Linked DNA regions of Homo sapiens. The protein of the gene in region 1 interacts with the protein of each later gene in a pairwise test. Each region holds a gene or a part of one and is shown in the gene's direction. Other genes may lie near its edges.

Evidence for each region. The genes of interacting proteins can lie anywhere in the genome.
Region 2: the proteins of PALS1 (region 1) and WFS1 interact in binary tests that used the Homo sapiens proteins (3 or more experiments, as listed by UniProt).

Annotation. Positions count from the first base shown.
Region 1 is NC_000014.9:67,328,416-67,335,525, forward strand, and holds part of PALS1 (protein PALS1), read left to right. Parts: intron 1-4,364; coding exon 4,365-4,541; 3' UTR 4,542-7,110. UniProt on the Homo sapiens protein: Plays a role in tight junction biogenesis and in the establishment of cell polarity in epithelial cells.
Region 2 is NC_000004.12:6,265,663-6,272,959, forward strand, and holds the start of WFS1 (wolframin), read left to right. Parts: upstream 1-4,187; 5' UTR 4,188-4,352; intron 4,353-7,297. UniProt on the Homo sapiens protein: Participates in the regulation of cellular Ca(2+) homeostasis, at least partly, by modulating the filling state of the endoplasmic reticulum Ca(2+) store.

The DNA of each region.
Region 1 (7,110 bases):
CTCCCATTCTGTAGGTTGCCTATTCACTCTGATGGTAGTTTCTTTTGCTGTGCAGAAGCTCTTTAATTAGATCCCATTTGTCAATTTTGAGTTTTGTTGCCATTGCTTTTGGTGTTTTAGTCATGAAGTCCTTGCCCATGCCTATGTCCTGAATGGTATTGCCTAGGTTTTCTTCTAGGGTTTTTCTGGTTTTAGGTCTAACATTTAAGTCTTTAATCCATCTTGAATTAACTTTTGTATAAGGTGTAAGGAAGGGATCCAGTTTCAGCTTTCTACATATGGCTAGCCAGTTTTCCCAGCACCATTTATTAAATAGGGCATCCTTTCCCCATTTCTTCTTTTTGTCAGGTTTGTCAAAGATCAGATGGTTGTAGATGTGTGGTATTATTTCTGAGGGCTCTGTTCTGTTCCATTGGTCTGTATCTCTGTTTTGGTACCAGTAGCATGCTGTTTTGGTTACTGTAGCCTTGTAGTATAGTTTGAAGTTGGATAGGGTGATGCCTTCAGCTTTATTCTTTTGGCTTAGGGTTGTCTTGGCAATGCAGGCTCTTTTTTGGTTCCATATGAACTTTAAAGTAGTTTTTTCCAATTCTGTGAAGAAAGTCATTGGTAGCTTGATGGGGATGGCATTGAATCTATAAATTACCTTGGGCAGTATGGCCATTTTCACAATATTGATTCTTCCCATCCATGAGCATGGAATGTTCTTCCATTTGTTTGGTCCTCTTTTACTTGGTTGAGCAGTGGTTTGTAGTTCTCCTTGAAGAGGTCCTTCACATCCCTTGTAAGTTGGATTCCTAGGTATTTTATTCTCTTTGTAGCAATTGTGAATGGGAGTTCACTCATGATTTGGCTCTCTCTTTGTCTGTTATTGATGTATAGGAATGCTTGTGATTTCTGCACATTGATTTTGTATCCTGAGACTTTGCTGAAGTTGCTTATCAGCTTAAGGAGATTTTGGGCTGAGACGATGGAGTTTTCTACATGTACAATCATGTCATCTGCAAACAGGGATAATTCGACTTCCTCTTTTCCTAATTGAATACCCTTTATTTCTTTCTCCTGCCTGATTGCCCTGGCCAGAACTTCCAACACTGTGTTGAATAGGAGTGGTGAGAGAGGGCATCCCTGTCTTGCGCCAGTTTTCAAAGGGAATGCTTCCAGTTTTTGTCCATTCAGTATGATATTGGCTGTGGGTTTGTCATAAATAGCTCTTATTATTTTGAGATACGGCGGACGCATCACTTGAGGCCAGGAGTTCGAGACCAGCCTGGGCAACATAGTGAAATCCTGTCTCTACTAAAAATACAAAAAACATTAGCCAGGCATGGTGGTGCACGCCTGTGGTACTGGCTACTGAAGAGGCCGAGTTCGTGCTACTGCACTCCAGCCTGGGCAACACAGCAAGACTTGGTCTCAAAAATAAATAAATAAATAAATAAATAAATAAATAAATAAATAAATAGATATAGAAACTAAGAAGATGATGGTGTTACTCACTGGATGCAAAATGTAACCAACCAGTTATGTAATTGTACTCTGAATCTGTTCTTCTAGTATTGTGAAAGAATGGTATTGGCATAAAGATGTGATTTTTTTCTTGTATGTATTGTTAAAGTCACAGAAAATCATCTATATTGTGGTAAGAGAGAATATATGCCAGACAAATGCTCTGCTGTCTGTCAGAAAGAGGAATAAAGACACAATCTGGAACCAGGAAATAAATAATAATAATAATAATTATTATTATTATTATCAAAAGGAATAATCAGACACTTTAGCAAAAGAAATAAGTTGGAGGGCATTTGTCTTTATTGTCTCTTTTCTATTTAATTCATTTCTTTTTATGCTTTCTTTGACTATAATTTGCACTTGCTTTAGTTTCTCAAGATGAATGCTTAATTTTTAAACTCTTCTTTTCAAATGTAGGCATTTGAAATTATAAATTTCCCTCGAAACAGTTCTTTAGTTGCATCCCGTAAGTTTTGGCATTGTATTTTTGTTACCATTTTGTTAGAAGTATTTTCTAATTTCCCTTCATTTTTTTTTTTTTTTTTTTTGAGATGGGGTTTCGCTCTTGTTGCCCAGGCTGGAGTGCAGTGGCACTATCTCTGCTCACTGCAACCTCTGCCTCCCGGGTTCAAGCAATTCTCTTGCCTCAGCCTCCCGAGTAGCTGGGATTATAGGCATGCACCACCACGCCCAGCTAATTTTGTATTTTTAGTAGAGATGGGGTTTCTCCATGTTGGTCAGGCTGGTCCCAAACTCCCGACCTCAGGTGATCCACCTGCCTCAGCCTTCCAAAGTGCTGGGATTATGGGCCTGAGCCCCCGGCACCCCGCTTCCTTGTTTTTCTCTTTAACACATGAGTTATTTAGAAGTATGTTATATAGTTTCCACCTATTTGGAGATGTGAAAAAGATTTTAACTGATTTATAATTCCAGGTGGTCAGACCCTGAAAGATGTCAGTCTTTTCAAATTTGTTGAGCCTTATTTTATGGCCCAACATCTGTTCTTTCTTGGTGAATGTTCTGTGCACACCTGTTAGGATGTGTATTCCACAGTTTTTGGTGTAGAGGATGGTGTATCTGATTGTATTTATTCTACTTAAGTTTTTTTCTCCTGTGATATTTCTTTCTTTTTTTTGAGACAGAGTCTCACTCTGTCGCCCAGGCTGGAGTGCAGTGGCACAATCTTGGTTCACTGCAACCTCTGCTTCCTGGGTTTAAGTGATTCTCATGCCTCAGCCTCCCAAGTAGCTGGGATTACAGATGTGCACCATCACGCCTGGCTATTTTTTGTATTTTTAATAGAGACGGGGTTTTGCCCTGTTGGCCAGGCTGGTCTCAAGCTCCCGGCCCCATGTGATCCACCTACCTTGGCCTCCCAAAGTGCTGAGATTACAGGCGGGGGAGCCCCTGCGCTGGTATTGGTATTTCTAATAGTGCTTTATTACTCAATGATAGAAGTGCTGAAGTAAAACAGATTTTCAATTTTAACTCTATAAAATTGTGCTAAGAAAATGATGGCGTTACAAAATGTAACCAACCGGTTATCTAGTTGCATTCTGAATCTCTGAATCTGTTCTGCTAGTATGAAGGCTTGAGAGTGGCTATCTAGCAGTATGAACTTATTGTCAGTTTTGCCTAGTTCAGCTAAAAATTTTGAGCTAAAACATTTTGTTTCATCTTAGTCGTGGATTGTAATTTGAAAGAGAACTTCAGACATGAAGTACTAAATAAGTGATATAAGCCATTTTGGCACAAAATGGAATAACAATGCCTTAAATTTGATAAAAACTAGGTGGATTCGGGCTTTATCATTTTCATTTCAACTCCAATACCACAAAGTTTCAGTTCTCTGTGGAGTCCTAGAATGTTCTTCCAATAATCTTGAGCTTACGGTAGACATAAGTTTTAGCAAAAATGTCAGTGTGTTCAGTTACAGTGGTGAAGTAGATTCCCTGCTGGGAACAAAGGATTCTGTGTGCCATATTCAGATGTACAACATTCCAGAATGAGAGTCATGCAAGAAACTGCCTCAGGACAAGCCAGAGTTGTCATATTTTTAATATGTTTTCTTACTGTTACAGAAGTTCAAACAGTTGAATGATATAAATTGTTTTGTACTATGGGTCCAATATAGTATTGATGTGTGACTTTTATATCTGAGACATTTTGTCTTGAGTTTAAGTTAGTTGTCTTCATTGGCAGGGGTGATTTGAGGTGAGTTTCACTTTCTTGAACCCATGTGCCTGATAATTAGAGGGTTCAGGATAAGTTTTGCACATAGCCTTGCTGCCTGCTTATCTTTGTAAAATGGCCCTTTCCTTCAGTCAGTATTTTAAAGTAGGCTACTCTATATAGTTTCCCAAACTCTGGTAGGATACTTTTAACTCTCTGCAGCAGATAGTATAGGGCAAGGGCTCTTTACTAGAGCCAAAAGTAAATGGCATTTTAGGTCCTTGCTCCAACCAGAAAGGTTCACTCCATATTACAGATGTTACTATTAGGAAGAGGTTATAGTGTCTAGAATGTTTGAAAACAAATGTTTGTAGGGAAACAGTGTGTGTTCTTGAAGCTTGTAGTTTTGTTGGTGAGATAAGACAAAATATGTGAAAACCTAAATAGTGGTATAAAACAGGATATATTGAGTCCCAGATGGTTCATAATATGAGTCGTGAAGATGCCAAAGCAAAGGTAACCATTGTGGCCGTGACAGGGTTGGAAAGGAGCTCCTGAGGTTGGGAGAGACAGAAGGAAAGCTATGAAGGTCGCTCCTTGTTCTTTGGCCATCTCTGACTCATCCTATATTATTTGGTTAGGAAAGGAATTATCTCACAGTTTTTATCTTCTGTTTGCAGCCTGAAGAGTTGAGAGAAATCATTGAGAAGACAAGAGAGATGGAGCAGAACAATGGCCACTACTTTGATACGGCAATTGTGAATTCCGATCTTGATAAAGCCTATCAGGAATTGCTTAGGTTAATTAACAAACTTGATACTGAACCTCAGTGGGTACCATCCACTTGGCTGAGGTGAAAGAAACATCCATTCTGTGGCATGTTGGACTTGATCTGGCAAAAACTGCCAATAGGAGGACTGCCCGACACTGCAGCAAGATTGAGGATAAGATGGAAGGCAGCAGTATAAGCTGTAGATCTGTTCTTAGATCTCTTGAATTAGTGAGACGACAGTTCCCTTAGGCAGTTTGTGCATGGCATCCTTTATTCTCTATACATGGCTTTAGCGGTTCTTGCCTCATTTTGGGATTCTAAATGGAAGCTTTCAACAGAGCATTCCATTTTGTCCTGTTAAAACCTTTTGTTTTCACCTAAACCCTTTCTGCTTAGTTGTATCTCTGTGAAAAACTTGTATACACAAGCGTCCATGTCTCACACAAATATTGATGTGATTATTCTTAAGTGTTAAATCATTAACACTTAAATGACTTCATTGGGAATATTGAGCAGAGGGACTGTGCTTCTATGCACTGGGCAAGGCAGTATTTGCTTAGGAAACTAATTTAGTCATCAGAGATACTTTCCTAAAAAGGAAAAATAAAAAACAAAATGGTGCCACTTTGGGTTGAAGCTACTTTGTTAGGCTTGAATTCATTTATATGTCTTTTGATTCTTAAAAAAACAAAAAACATTCCATTAGAAGCACCAGTTTTTTTGCTCAGACTTTGTGGATCAGACTCTACACTCAACACACTCTAATCTACTTAAAGGTATACAAAATATGCTGATCTTTTTTAAATTATGATTTCCTGAATTTTTTTCTTAAGTCGTCTCAACTGATTTACTCACTTAGCTTCCCTTCCCTCATCAGCATAGTATAATAGAATGTATGTTACATTTTTATGAATGGCAGGTGTTCATTATAATCTGTATTGACTTAAAAAGTTTCTTCCTCATGATGCTAATAGTTTTTTGTATACATGGGAGGATAGCACATTTGACAGTTTTTGCATTTTTATGTATGAGCACAGTATCCTATGACTGTGCTACGTATATATAGGTAATAAACTGGAATTCTGTTGATGAATATAGCTGCTGTACTGTATATTAATATTTAATAGATCAACAAATGGTCATTGAAAACACTTGTTTAGCATTAGAATAAAATTATATATGTCCTTGGGAAATATTATGACAGTTGACTTTAAGATCAAAAGGAAGGGAAGACCTGAAAGTCATTTGAACATTTTAGGAAAAGAATATTGGAGAGAAAAAGGTATTAAATATATAGAAATAGGTTTTTAACCTAACAAGGTCTGCCTCTTATGACGAGAATGCAACAGCTTGGTAAATCATAAAAGAAACATTTAAGCTAATAGGATTTTCGTACTGTCTCTATAGCTGTAGCTTTAAAATTCAACGTATATAATTGGCATGGAAACTTAATTTGCAGTCTTTTCAAGCCTTTAGGATAGTGTGATGTGTAACAAACAACCTCAAATGTGAATGCCTTGATTTTATTTTTATGGTGACTTTAGCTACAGCATTTCCTATACCCAGAGCTAAACACTGGAATAATACTGACATCATTTAATTTAACATAAGCAATTATGTTTAAGGAGTAATTTGTGTCATGTACATATTTGATTGATTTTTTTTCTTCTACATAATTTTATTTGAACAAATGTAGACAGTTTATATGTCGCCTTTTTCTGTTCAAATTTGCATGGCCTATTAAGTTGGCTGGAGAGTGTTTTATGTGGAAATATTTTCAAGATAATGTTCCTTAGGAAGAAAATAACATTCTTGGGTTGAGGGAAGGAATGCCATACACTACTGTCTCTTCAGATCTGAAATACTCCAGTTTAGAGCCAGGAAATTTCACAGGTCACACCGATTTTTAGCATTAAAAACTAAGGAATATACTTAGCACTTACTTAATCTTTTCAGTTTTCCAGTTTACGTCTCAGGAATGAAGTGTAGTCTATGGTTGACAATGGAGTTTTGTGATCCTGCTTATTGTAACTGACAACTGTTTTCAACTCCAAGAGCTAAACTATTGGCAGTTCATGTTAAGTTAGAGTGAGGGTGTAGGTAGTGTCAGTGAGTGGCTCTTGTGCCTGCTGTAGACATTAGGCCTGCACTAGGGCCATGTGCTGTCAAGATTCAGGAACATGGCTTTAACAAGCAGATCTTGTATCAAGGCAGAGGTGATGCCATGCCATACTTTTAGGAAGTCTGAGATGATAAATATTTCAAGGTCAGTGAAGTCTATCAATCATTCTCCCCTTCCTCATCAGCAATGGTAGATAGAAATGTCCTAAACTTTTCTAAATCCTAGTGATGAGGATGTGCTGATATTCAACATAGTCCTTAAAGTGAAAACTGAGTTGTTGCTGACCTCCACAAAAGAATATGGAAAAAAGCCTTGCTGTACACCTAGTTGTACAGCCACTCTGGCCAATTCCATTTCCTGTCCCTCTGTGGTTCTGACTGGAGACCCCAGTGTGGGGGAGGTCTTACCATTTAATATAGAAATGATATCAATAACTAATGCTATGTACTTGGAAAATCCAAATAAGGAAGTTTTAGGTTGGTGCATAACTTTGTTTCTCAAATTTTCGTTGTCAGAACAAATGGAAGGAGAA
Region 2 (7,297 bases), on another chromosome or scaffold:
GGAAGTCTGAAATCAGTGTCACTGGGCAAAAATCAAGGAGAATCTGTTCCCTGCTCTTCCAGATTCCAGGGACTGCCTGCATTCCTTGACTTGTGGCCACATAATTCCTATCTTCAATGCCAGCGTCTTGGAATCTCTCTCTGCTCTATGTCCACATCAACTTCTCCGTGTGTGGTCAAATCTCTGTCTGCCTCTCTCCTGCAAGGAGATAAGCCAGGCTAATGGCCCCTTCTCAAAATCCTTAATCACATCTGCAAAAACCCTTTTCTAAATAAGGTACCATTCACAGGCTCCAGGAAGTGATCTCTTTGGGGGCCTTGTACACCAATAGCCTGTAAACCGCCACACTCTGCTGTCTTTCAAATGACAACTCACCAAGCCTCTGTCCTCATTTTCTTTGAATACTTGGCATGTAGTCCAATGCCTGGAACAGGCAGGATGTCACTAAATGTTTATATTTTTTAATTTTTATTTATTTTATTATTATTCTTATTATTTTTGAGACAGAGTTTTACTCTGTCGCCCAGGCTGGAGTGCAGTGGCATGATCTCTGCTCACTGCAACCTCCAGTTCCTGGGATCAAGCGATTCTCCTGCCTCAGCCTCCTGTGTAGCTGGGATTACAGGCATGTGCCATGACGCCCGGCTAATTTTTTTGTATTTTTAGTAGAGATGGGGTTTCTCCATGTTGGCCAGGCTGGTCTCGAACTGCTGACCTCAAGTGATCCACCCACCTCGGCCTCCCAAAGGGCTAGGATTACAGGTGTGAGCCACCACGCCTGGCCAAAAGTCACTAAATGTTTGTTGAGTAAATGGAAGTAGGTTTTAAATAGGTGTAGGGAAGGAAGTGGGCCAAGAACTTGAATGCAGAGTCTGAAAATCATGGGCAGACATCAAAGGACTGAATTGTGGGGGGTATATTTGGATGTCAGGTTAAAGAGTTTGGACACTGTCCTATGGGCAAGAAAGAGCTTATATGAAGTCCTTGCATAGGTGATTCATCCATCCATCCATCCATTCATTCATTCAATACTCAGCAGCAACATGCAGAGCTCAGCTCTTGGGGGAATGAGGACAGGTGTCCTAGAAAAGATAGCATTGAACAGCTGGCTCTTTCTCCCACCAGAGTTGTGTTTTAATAAGTTCTAGTATTTCTAGCAGTTACTGCTTTAAGTGTGTGGCTACTAGATTTTCTGGCTCATTCAGATTCATGACAATGAAATCTTTGTGGATTGTGCCTGGCACCCTTACATAATACCACTCTTCCCGTGAATGCTTTCCATCATGCGTTCTTCCTTATCAATAGTAATTTGCCATTTTTCAAATGTCTGCTGTGATCTTCTACTTCTCAATATTTTTGGTGTGTTTCTTGTAAATAGCGCTTAACTGGACTTTAGTTTTTGCCCCAATCTTACAGACTTTGGATGGGAAATTCAGCCCATTCACCGTGTTACGAAGGCGGGTAGCCATGGCTTTATTTATTTTATCTCATCTTATGTTTACTATTATTAAGCTTATTGTTCTTGCTATTATTTACTTTCCCCCTTAATTTTGCTTCCTTACTCTCCCTCCACCCCTCCCCCAACTTCTACCTAGTAATTCAGGAGTTCTACTCTGCTTCTTTCCCGTGAGTTGCTACTTTCCAATTCCTGAGAGTCATAATTCAACCAATCTTTCCCTGATAATGTATTAAAAGTAAATGGTAATGAAGCCCCCTCCCCACCACCAATAAGGCTTTCCTTCCCCAGCTGAGAGTCATAATTAAACCAATCTTTCCCTGCTAATGTATTAAAAGTAAATGGTAATGAAGCACCCCTCCCAACCACCAATAAGGCTTTCCTTCCCCACTCACCAAATCAGATCCTTTTACTTCCTCCTTCTCCCCTCAACCAAATGTGATCTTAAAATATTCTGACTTCTCTGTGATAAGATTCTATTTTTTTTTTTAGTTCCAGGCTAATACAACTTTCTCTTGAAGCATGTAGCTTATGTTTTAAGAATCCTTATGTGGCACTGCTAGTACAAAATCACAGGCACATGTGGATTATCCATACTGTATATTTTGCAAGGGTCATTGCTTAACACCACTTCCTGTTCTGAGCGTTTGCTCTATCTTGAAATCTCTACTGTGATTGAACTGTCTCGGTGACGGGGGAACTCTGAATATCTTCCTCTGAAAGGGGACATCACTGAGGTCCTTTCTCTGTCTTGCCACAGTGGATATTTTCTCTCTTTTGTCCACATAGATGAATCCTGTAGTAGCCATGGTAAGGATCCTTGATCCTATCATCAGAGTCCCTGGACATTGCTCCAAAGTCCCCTAGGAACCACTTCAACTTTTCTCCCCTTAGATGTGACCTGTTCTTTCTGGAACTCTGCAAGACCGTCTCTTTATCCTTGGCATCTGGGATTTCCAGGGACACGTTCTCCTGGCACTTTGCTCACCTCTGTTTCCCCTCCAGCTCTTCCTGGAGTACCTGTCCTTTGTGCAATACACCTCCTGGAACTGTCTTTCCAGTCTCTGCTTTTTGTCCTGATGATTTTCATGTGCTTTTCCTCTACATCATGAAGCATTTACTCCACATTATCTTCCAGTTTGCTCATTTGTCCTCACCTCCACTCTTCTCTTTCTGAATTTGCCTGTTGCTTTTTCAGTCTCTTAGCTCCGTGGAGTATGTTCAGTGTTGCTGTGTTCTGATAGAGGCTCCTTAAGCCATCTTGTAGATTTTTTGTTGCACTTCCTCTCTTCCCTTAGACCTCCACAGGAGGAACTTTTCAATCTGTCCTCTTCTCTCTGCTTAATGAGCCCCTGCAAAGGGTTTGGGAAGTGCTTCAGCCTCTCTGTGATTGTGTGTTCACATTAATATTTATTATTTTCTTAAATGTGCATAAATCTCACAATGTGAACAGTGATCATCTTTGAGTGATTTTTTTTCTCCTTTCTACTTTTAGTAATTCTCCAAATTTTCTACAGTTAGTGTGTGATAAGGTGGAAAGACATCTTCAAGACTTTGGGCAAATAACTATGTCTGAGCCTCAATTTTCACATCAATAAAAAATGGGCTCAGTGCCACCTCCCTCCTTGGGTCACTAGGGGGGCCCTTGAAAGCTGTGAAAGCCCCTAAGCCAACCTGGACAGAGCAGGCGAGGCTGACGGCAGGTGTTCTTCCTTCCTCTGTGAGCCTCACAGGGTCACACGTGAACATTGGGGATCGGGGGTGGGCAGTGGGGGCAGCTGGAGAATCAAATGAGGTGACTGACATGAACTACGCCGCTTTGACAAAAGTCCTCCGAAGTAGTGTGTTCAGAACTCATCTCCAAAGCCATCTGGAATATTTGCTCCCAACATGTTGGTAAGCATTATCTCTGACAGTCACTCCGAGCCCCAGTTTCTGCTGTGATAACTAGGACAGGTAGCTCAGGTTGGTTGTGGGGACCAGAGACAGAGCAGGCAGGGTCTCACGTTCCCCAGGGCCTCTCAAGGATAGACCCTCGCCCTCATCTCCAAACCACGCCTCCCAGACAGGAACCAAACTCCCAGAGTCTCCAAACTGCCTGAGCCTTGCCCACTCCCTGGGCTAACACACACTTTAAAGGAATCCCACAGTCACCGTGTGAAAAGCTTGCTACACTGCATTTGATTCTGGGCACTGAAAGCAGTACTTGGCTGCAGACACTCGTTTCAAACAGGCCCCATTTTTCCATCTCTGCTGCTGTTATTAGGGGAGCCCTTAGACTCTCTTGCAGCGCCGGAATAGGCGCTCAAGACGTGTGTTAATATTGCAACAGCAAATATAATGAATCTGCAGTTGGGGACGCTGAGGCCGGAGTGGTGGATGAAAGGTGGCCGGAGCCTTTTCCACGGGTCCAAACCACCTGTTACAGGAGAAGGCGAGCGGCCTCGCTAAGCAACTGGACGTTCCGCGGGCGGGGCGGGGGCGGGGCCGGGGCCCGAGTCCGCTCGGAAACTTTCGCTGTGGGCGAGCCGGACCCGCCTTCTGGCCCCTCGGGCCCAACCACGCAGGGGGAGTGCCGGGCCGCAGCTAGGCGAGGCGCACCGTGATTGGCGGAGATGTGGAGTGATTGGCGGCTACACCGGCCACTCAGCAGGCCGAGCTGGCGCCGCATCCGGGGGGCCGCGTCTGGAGTGGAGGGAGGCCGAAGGCCCCGCCCCTGCCCCGCCCCCTCGTGCAGAAGGCCGCGCTAGCCGGCTCTTCAGCAGCGAGTGCAGATTGCTCCCCCGCGGCCGCAGATCTCCCGTTTGCGCCGCGTTCAGCTGCTCCCGAACAACTTTTCTGCCGGCCCAGAGGCCCCAGGGCGTCGCAGCGCCGCGTGCGGCCCACTCACGGGCCGGTGAGTACTTCGGCGCTGGGGCAGTGGCGCGGTGGCTGTGGGCAGCGCGCAGGAGGCGGGCAAGAGCCCTGAGGCACTGTCCTCTTCGGGCCTCAGTTTCCCCTTCCGAGCTGATGGGTGGCTGGCCCCAAAGTCCCGACAAGGTCCCCGAAGTTGGAGGGCCGGGGGTCCCGCCCGCTCTGCAACGCGCAAGGCGACCCCTGTTCCGGGCCCGAACGGGTCACCCGGGGGGCGCGCCCCGGTCCCCCGCGCGCTGTCGCCTGGAGCCCCGCCGCGGGCGGGACAGCAGGCCCGAGAGGCGGAGCGGCCGGCGGGCAGGCCCCCTCCCCGCGCCCCGCGCCATCCCCCCCGAGTTGCCCCGTCATGCCCCTCCCCCGCGGTCCCGGGACCCACGGCCGCCCTCGGTGCCCGCCCGGCCGTTGGAACGCGCCTGGGCCCCCGGGAGGTGTTGTGGGGGGGAAGGGGGGTTCAGTCCCCCAGGGGGACCCGGCCCGCCCGAGGGGCAGCTTAGGGGTCATTCTGAATCCCCACAGCCCACTTAGGAGCGCTGTGGCAGTTCCTCTCTCTCTCGGGGCCCCTCAGTAGAGAGTTGAGGGGTTTCAGTGGCAGCACCTGGACCCTGCCTCGTATGAACTCCACCCTCTGGATCATTAGCTTTTTGTTTGATCAACGAAAACTTTCTGGAGAATCCTACCCAGCCCTTTTGGATGTGATGGCGCCCTGGCCTCTCACCCACTTAGCAGATGATGTTATGAATTCCAAGGAAGTCGCATTTGTGCAACCCCCCACCACCCAGATTTAACCCTCTCAGTAGCCTTAGGCGGAGAAGTTATAGTCCCCGTTTGACACCCCAGGAAGCTGAGGCTCAGCAGGGTTTGGTGCCAGCCCAGGACCACGAAGCTGATGGGGCAGAGCCTGGTGTGAGGCCTCTGCCCTATCTCTCCAGAAGCAGCCCCGTCTCTCCTCACCTTGGACAGTGACCCCTGGCATTTGGCCCAGGGCTTTGCAGTTTGTAAAGGGCTTTCTCTTATGCCAGCATCCATCACTCAAGGAGCTGTGCCCTGGGTACCCCATGTGCTGGCTGCCTGTTCTCTGCAGCAGGAGAGGGAGCCCACGGGAAGCCCAGAGGCCACCTTTGTCACTGTCGCCACCTGTTTACTTCTGTGTCCAAGGGTCTGTGATTCCCATGGGGTCTCCGTTGTATCCAACCAGGGATTTGGAGGGAGGCTTCTCCACATTTCAGCCTCTTTTCCCTACCTGCTGGTTTGTCCTCCCTTCGCAGACACAGGAAAAGTTGGCTGGGAGACCCCATCTCACCTTCTTTCCCAGGATGGAAGAGCATGGAGGGCGTCTCTGACTTAGGCCTCCCCTGCCCATCCCGGACCAGTGCTGGACAGGCTTCTGGGGCTGGTCACAGAGGGGACCTCAGCTCAGTCTCAACCCCCAGAGATGTCTGCACTGCCAGACAGACCCGAAACACCCATCCTTGACGGTGGCAATAAGAATCATAATAGGTCGGGAGCTTTATGCCTACACGGCTCCCCTCCCCTCCCACTTCCCTACTTCCGGAAGTGGTACCACCACAGCCAGCCAGCCCCAGCCACAAACCAGACCACCCCCTGTGCCCTTCATTCCTCACTCCCAGTTGGGTCTCTCCTGGCTCCTGAGCCTCACTCGGATGCCTGCCCTGGTTCAGGACCCTCGCCTCTCCCTGGACGACCCCCAGGCTCCTCCCTGGTCCCGATCCGGGCCTGGCTGCACGCAGCCCTGCTGGTTCTTCAGCTGCCACTTCCCTCTGGGCTATCGGGTCAGGTCCGCCTCCCGAGCCAGGAGCCGGCATTCTTTCGGGCCCTCAGGGACCCGCCTCGCTGCTCACTCAGCCTCTCCCTCCTGTGTCCTCTCTCCAGCAGTCACCTCCCAGCCACCTGCGTGTTCCTGGCCACAAGCCTGGCTCACTGTCCCTCTGCTGCCTCCTCTTCTGGGCACAACCCCTGCTGGAATGCCCAGCCACCTCCCAGCTTGCCTGGCTCCTGCCTGCTTGTCCAGAAGGCTCAGTCAAGTCCTCCTGCAGGATTTCTGGCCTGCCTCTTCCCACAGTGGAGTGAGGGCCCCCTTCTGTGCCGTCTTTGTGGGTGTCTGTTTAGGTGTTAACCCTTCCCATCTAGATGAAGCTGCTCCAATGCTGGCCCTGGACAAGACTTCTCTAGGGCAGGGGGGCCCAGCACAGTGCTTGGCACAAGATGGACCTACCCTCAGTCCACACCTGCTGCCCATCCAGGCCAGGCCTGGAGCAGGTGCCAGGTGTGTGGTGGGGGCTTGGCCACTATGGCCGTCATGAATGCTGCTTGGGGCAGTCCCAATTCAAACCCCTCTGTTCCTGTGAATGTGCCACATTGGATAGAGCTGGAATGTTCCTTGGTTTGTCCCTTAATACTCTGAGCAAAAATAGGTACCTGGGATCCATCAAGGGCTTTGTGCCCTTGTCTTGAGGAGCAGCCCTGTGCCAGGGGGCTGGGTCAGGCCAGGCCAGAGCAGACATCCCAGGGCCAGGACCTCCTGGGCCTGCTCCCTTAGAGCTTGCTCACAGATGGGTTTTAAAATAACATTTGCTTTAATTTCAAAAACATCACACATTCATTATAGAAAACTAGGGAAATATGTTTAAAAGAAGAATAAAATGAAACCGCGCATAAGCTTTATCCCCAGAGACAACAAGTATCTTTTTTAGGGGGCGTTTTCTTCCGTTTTTTGGCAGATAAATTTTGTTTTCATCCTAAACAGACTCCGGCTAATATCTTCTGCTGCTTTAAATCCTGCCTTAACAGTGTTAGGCCCACCTTTTCCTTGTCTCAAAACGTTCATGTACGAGGTCACGTTTACCAGCTGTACAGCGTTGCACCATATGGAGGGGTGTAGGCTTTATAGCCAGCCCCTTTCTGGACAGT